2 linked regions of the Homo sapiens genome follow. The protein of the gene in region 1 purifies or fractionates together with the protein of each later gene. This does not show direct contact. Each region holds a gene or a part of one and is shown in the gene's direction. Other genes may lie near its edges.

Region 1 (3,500 bases):
AAAAAGAAAAGAAAAGAAAAATTCGCTGGGTGTAGTCACAAGTGCCTGTGATCTCAGCTACTCGGGAGGCTGAGATGGGAGAATCACTTGAGCCCAGGAGGCAGAGGTTGCAGTGAGCTGAGATTGCGCCAACCACACTCCAGTCTGGGTGACAGAGGGAGACCGTGTCTCAAAAAAAAAAAAAAAAAAAAAAAAAAAAGATGTTTTCCACTATTCTCTATTGCAGTATTTCAACAAGGTATGGGTTAAGTAAGATATTTTGGATTGGCCTCAGTCCTTTTGCATAAAATTTTTAAATAAAAAAATTGGTTAAAATGAAATACAATTTAAAACTCAGTTCTTCATTTGCACTGGCAACATTTCAAGCATTCAGTAACCACTTGTAACCAGTAGCTATCATAGTGGACCACGTAGATATAGAATGTGTTCATCATCTTGGGAAGTCCTGTTGGGTTGCATTACTCCATAAGTTCTTTCCACCCAAATAAGATTTAATGATGGCAACTCAGTTTCTTTGCTTCACATCCTAAGTCTATCATTCTGAGACCCACAGTCCATGATTCTATGATTCTGAGGTATCCCCCCTGTTCTAACGTTCAGTGGCTTTTTAACGTCCAAGGAGAGCCCAAAGGAGGCCCTTTATGTTTTGAGGGACAAACCTGGGGGCTGGCTGTACTTTTCCATCCTCAGAGTCTTTCCAGAGAGAGAAGTGACCTCAGCTTCAGGTCCTGCTGGCAGCCAAGGACGGGTTTTCAGCAGTCTCCAGAGCAAATAAAGGCAAAAGGAAGGGACTCGATGTACGGAACAGGAGGCAGTGGCGGCTGGGAGGGGGCTAAAACTGTCTGCATTTGATGGCCACCATGCCAAGGGAAATATGCCTTCTCTTCCTCCCCTGGCCCTGGGCATTTTCCTTCCCAGGAACTCAGGCCAGTTCAAGGCCCAACTGAGCCCCATTCAGGTGACCACCTGGGAGCGGGTAGCTGCCAAGGGAAATAGTGTGCAGAGGTAGAGACATACCAGTGGTGGGGTAGGGTTGCACGGGTTCTCACCCTAGCCCTGCCACCCAGTCACTCACTCACTGCTGTTAGCCGTTGGCAGTTTTCTCCTTTCCTCTAGGCCTTGGTCTTCTCATCTGTACTATTGGGCAGAAATATGTGACTTGAGCCCCCAGTGGGGTGCTGGATTATGAAAACACCCTGAAAATGATAAATGTATGCATCATCACAGACTAAAGAAATACAAAGGAGGGAGTTTTTGTTTAATATTGGTCATTTATATGAAGGGAATTTAAATTTTCGCCAGGCACGCTACACCTAGGTTTGATTGGCAAAGGATCACAGCTGTGAGTTCTGAATGCTGGGGTTTGATACTGTGTTCTGACCTTGCTGGGGTGACTGTTATACTCCATTAGCTTTGCAGGATGGACACAGGGCTCTTTGGTCAGTGGTAGTTTAGAGAGCCTCAGAGAGGTATCTCGTGGGGAGGCAGGGAGATGGCTGTGCATCTGGAATAGTTCAGCCGCTTCCCTTCCCTCCCATCTCATCATCTGGGGGAAAAGTGCTCTTGGACTGGTGGTGTAGCACCGGGTGCTGGGCAGGACCCAGATTTTGTGTTTGTGTTTACAGTTTTCTTCCAAAACTTTTAAGGTGTATTCCAAGATTTTGCGTTCTGTTCTTAACAGTCTCTCTGCATTTCTCCCCCACTCCCACTTGTCTGAGCGTAATTCCTATTAGGCTCACCCCAACTCCATGAGTGAGAACGCTTGCCTATTTGGAGAGGGCCTGAATTGTTGCATGACTTTGGACAAGTGCTTCCTCCCTCTCAACCTCAGATTCCCCATTAGGACAGTGGGACTAAGAACCCTTCCATGCCTGTCTGCCTACTTCCCAGCATTGTCAGAAGGCTCTAGGAGACAGTGTTATGTGACAGTGCTTTAGAAACTATGAAGCAGCACTATAAGACTTAGAGTTATTTTTCTCTTCTGGCTGCAACAGCAGGGATGGGGGTGGCAGGGAGGGTGAGTGTGCAGCTGGAAAAGGAATTCAGGAAGATGAGGAGGCAGGACAGACAGAAGAGCCGCCCAGCGAAACCTTCCCCTGGTCACAGAGGGGAGCGCGGTTACTCTGCTCATATGAAGGACGCAGACTCAGGGAAATGTCTGTCTTCCTGTCTTTCTAATCTGAAGCTTACTACATTTCCAGTCCTAGCTGGGCTATTTCTTCAATAACATGACTTCCCTGTCATTATAGCTCAGACAGGGTAACTTTTTGTTTTGTTTTGTTTTAGCTGCTATTTCACTTTGATCCTTCAACCTCAAACTATCTCAGACAAGTCCTTCCTTGATGTTTTCTTTTCTGTTCCATTTGTCCCAAGCCACATGCAGGAGTTATTTATCTTGCGTCTTCCAAAAGGGGAAGCAAGAAGGGAGATTTTTCCACTTAAGCCTGGGGAACAAGTGAACAACTGTGTGAGGGGAGGAACATTCCACAAGCTGCCTCAAAAGGGAAGACTAGACTCCTCTGGAAGTTGGGGTTATTGTGAAGCAATACCAAACCCCCAGGTCCTTTACATTTCTGTTAGTTTTACTTCATTCACTCTGTGCAATAGGGGGTGAGGTTTTGTGTCTCTTTAAGCCCAAGAAAGGACCATTATGAAGTGGGCTCTTCCTCTGCCTGTTTCTGCTTCCCAAATGCTATAGTACAAGTGAAGACATATGATCCCAGAGGAGACCATATGTGTCAAGACCAGAATGTGCTTGGGGTGTCTTAAGAGCATTTTAAGGACCGAGGCTGCCACTTCAAAGTTCACCTAGTCTACCCATTTCAATTGATAGATGGGGGAACCAAGGTCTAGAGAGACCAAAAGACTTGATACTACTGTGGTAGAACAAGACCCCCTGGCATTTAATTTCAAGCTGAGTATTTTTCTCCATGATGCCGGGTTACCTCCCACCACCATTTGGTCAGTTGAGAAGTCTTGGAAGAAATAAGGGATGATGAGCCTGACAGGGAGGTTTTGGGAGAAGAAAGAGGGAAGACATGGCCACTGTTGCTCCTGATGGAAGGTTATTTGTGGGTAGAGAGAGCAGGTTTGTTCTTTGTGGCTGCAGGGGAGATGGGGTAGACAGATCAGAAAGTTTGAGGGAGGCACATTTAGATCAGTAAAAGAAAGAACTTTCTAAAGTCACTTGAGAATGAAAAGCCATTTAGTTAGTGCAAGAAATGAAATGTCTCCACCACAGAGCCTCTGTTAGGAATAGCATTTTAGTTTTGAATCCTCAGAGGAGATACTGCTCCAAAATCCCTTATAGTCATGAGAGTATTAGAGTCTAGAGCTTGGCATTTAGAGAATGAGGCCTTAACAGTTACCAGAACAGAGGTATTTTCTAGATCTCAGCTAACATCCCCTCTGCAACACATGGAAGCATCTGGATGGTTTCCGTACAGGACCTAAAGAAGTGCTGTCTCTTCTGGGTAGAATGGAGAAAAATGTGGCCACCC
Region 2 (3,500 bases), on another chromosome or scaffold:
AGGTTGCCAGCTTCTTTAAATGGCCTCTTCTCAACTGGTATAGGAAGTTGGAAAATAAAGAACTTTCTTTATTTCCCTTTAGTGTTGGTAACCACAGTTTCTTTAAATAACAGATGCCCACCCCAGGGAAACCCAGTGGCATGATCAGCCTTATGCTCAGGAAGGTTTGGTTGCTATACTGGAGAGTGAGAATCTGGGACCTTCCATGATAGACATAATTGTGCCAGCTATCCTCTACTTTCTATATGATGCTATCATTCTTTTTTCTTTTCTTTTTTTTGACAGAATCTCACTGTGTTGTTCAGGCTGGAGTGCCGCAGAGTGATCTCTACTCACTGCAACCTCTGCCTCCTAGGTTCAAGCAATTCTTGTGCCTCAGCCTCCTGAGAAGCTGGGATTACCACCATGCCCAGCTAATTTTCGTATTTTTTTGTAAAGACGGAGTTTTGCCATGTTGGCCAGGCTGGTCTGGAACTCCTGGCCTCAAGCGATCTGCCCATCTCGGCCTCCCAAAGTGCTGGGATTACAGGCATGTGCTATCATTCTTTTTGAGCACAGGAGGAAACTATGGCTGATCTGCTCATTTTACTGTCAAAAATATAGGCAGCTTTTGTATTGTAACATTATCCCCTTAACAGCTGTCCAACTGGTCTATACATTTCACCTAACATATGGTAAATGTTCCTACTGTTGGCCTTTCCTGAGCCTCTGTCCATTCAACTAAGGCCACTGCAATGGGATTGTATGCAGTTCAGCCAAGAAATAAATGTGAGGTGCAACTCACATTTTTTAAATGTTTCAAAATTAAGCATTTAGGTGCTTTTATTCATAAACATGACTTTGCAAATATTGGTAAACAGTTTCATCATAAGACCTTGTCAGTGACTCACAATGTCAATGGTGAACGCAAAGGAGAATCTGTCTTTTCTGGAACACCAGGTTCAGGTATCAGTTTCAACTATGCTTATAATTTGTGCTCTAAAGTCCACAAAGCTAAATTATCTTTCCCCTAAAAATTGAGTACTCATATCCTTAAAATAGCTTGGAAATTAGATTACCTTATGAATACAGCATAGCATGTCACATAAACGTTTTTCTACTGTTATACCTTTTTGGTGGGAAAGACTATTTTGCAAAACATTTTTCTTGTGTTCAGTAATTAATGGGAAAAACAAACTCTAAAAGAAAGAGACAGTTATGTCCCAAAAATACAGGAAAATGGAAGAATGGAAACAGGGAAGACCAATAAAGAAAAAAATAGAGGAAATTACAAGTAATAAACTGAAGTCATACTGAAAAACATATGGCTCTTTCTTATTGAAAGTTGTGAAATACTTGCAAAACTCAGCTAGTTCCATTAAGAATAGTCTTTAATCTAAAAAGAACAAATTCATTTGTCAGTTCTTTATTTCGGTGTGTAGATTTGAATGTTTCATCAATTGCATTTACGGTTTATCCCTCAGTGTGAGAACTGTTTTTGCTGTTTTGACTATAAATGGATATCTGCTTTAGGAAGACTTAGGAAGCCTGGGACATAGGATTACAGATCAAATTCTATTTGACTCCATAGAAGTTGAGACGGAAGGAGCACCTGTTGGGATATTCTAGACCAAACATTCCACAGCTGTCTCTTAACGTGACTGACAAAGAGACACAGTTGAGACGAAGTTTGGGTATATCCTGGGATGAGGCCAAGGGTGGATTTGCACAGGATGGTCACAGGGCAGTTGTTAGCATTCCACCACTACATAAAAGGGTGATTTTGCCAAGTGCATTTCATTTCATTTCAGTTGATTTAGATACCAAGTTATATTGTTTTGACTTTAGGACTAGATGTGAGTTCAGGAATTTGAAATCATAATAAATGTTTCCTTGAACTTTGAAGATAAAAGGTAGAGTTAAAAGACAGCTGCGAAGTCTACATGGGGAAGCATAATACATGACTCAGGGTTCCATGGTTTTCAGTGTCGGTGAGTGCTCTGTACACTTATAAGAATAGTGCTGGTGTTTATAGAAGAAACACATGCAGGTTTGAGGCAAGACTTCCTTGCTTAATTGGTGCTTTTGCTTTCCATTTTCTAAATGCCATGCAAACTACTTTTTTTTTTTTCTTTTGTTGAGACGGAGTCTTGCTCTGTCACCCAGGCTGGAGTACAGTGGTGCGATCTCGGCTCACTGCAAGCTCCGCCTCCTGGGTTCACGCCATTCTCCTGCCTCAGCTTCCTGAGTAGCTGGGACTACAGGCGCCCGCCACCACGCCCGGCTAATTTTTTGTATTTTTTGTAGAGACGGGGTTTCACCATGTTAGCCAGGAAGGTCTTGATCTCCTGACCTCGTGATCTGCCCGCCTCGGCCACCCAAGGTGCTGGGATTACAGGCGTGAGCCACCGCTCCCGGCCTCAAACTACTTTAACTGAAAACATTCTTCTAAGGAAAGCATCAGAAAACTTACTAGAATTGCTTAAGAATAAATAAATAATACAAATAAAAGAGCAAAATGAGAAAGTAGACAGACTCCTAGTCTATTGTGCTATTGATCTCTCCAGGTTCTAGGCTTTCTTGGGTCTGACACCACTTTGTAAATTTTTTTTTTTTTTTTTTTTTTTTTCCAGATAGGGTCTCATTCTGTCACCTAGGCTGGAGTGCAGTGGTACAATCATGGCTCACTTCAGCTTCAACCTCCTGGGCTCAAGTGATCTTCCTGCCTCAGCTCCCTGAGTAGCTGGGACCACAGGCATGTGCCACCACGCCCGGTGAATTTTTGTATTTTTTGTAGAGATGGGGTTTCTCCATGTTGCACTGGCTGGTCTTGAACTCCTGGGCTCCAGTGATCCACCCACCTTGGCCTCCAAAGTGCTGGGATTACAGGCATCCGTCACTGCACTGGGCCAGTTTGTAAATCTTATGAAAAGTATGGCCAATCTTTTGCAAAATGTGCAAACACATATAGACACAAAGTTTTATATCTAAATTATTGGTTATTAAAGCCAGGACAATAGAGTGCATATAGCATGGAAGACAGGTAGAAAAGACTGAAATGGTTTAGTTATTCAGAGCAGTGGAGGGCTATTGGCTCTTGCCTTTGCAGTCAGCTGAGATATGAAACTATATAAGCAGAAGCTTCACGCTGCCATTTGAATATTGAAAATCTCCACTTTTAGTTCAAGAGATAAACAACCAATGGTTTGTTTGTTCACAGCACATAAGTTATCACTTTCTTCTCTGTTTCATCCCATCAAGATCTAAGGTGTATAGTTACAGAATAGAACTCGGTTCATACCATATGCACCCTAATTTCTTCGATCTTCAACTAGTTTGGAAGTGTGTGTGGGTGTTTTCTTAGCCAAGGTTAATATGCAATTTCTTAGTGGAGTGTAGGAGTTTGGGGTGCCTAGCCTTCCTACTTCCCACTTAGATAACTTCCCCTACCTGTTGTACCTGTCAAAGGAGAAGGCCAGTATGGCCATGTTCTTTGCAGGTGACTCCACCTTAGCCACAGC

Evidence for each region. The genes of interacting proteins can lie anywhere in the genome.
Region 2: the proteins of SPARC (region 1) and BCAT1 fractionate together in Homo sapiens (co-fractionation; one large-scale study listed by BioGRID). This does not show direct contact.

The regions. Positions count from the first base shown.
Region 1 is NC_000005.10:151,676,916-151,680,415, reverse strand, and holds part of SPARC (SPARC isoform 1 precursor), read left to right. Parts: intron 1-659; exon of another isoform or gene 660-760; intron 761-1,079; exon of another isoform or gene 1,080-1,196; intron 1,197-3,368; exon of another isoform or gene 3,369-3,471; intron 3,472-3,500.
Region 2 is NC_000012.12:24,942,602-24,946,101, reverse strand, and holds part of BCAT1 (branched-chain-amino-acid aminotransferase, cytosolic), read left to right. Parts: intron 1-3,500.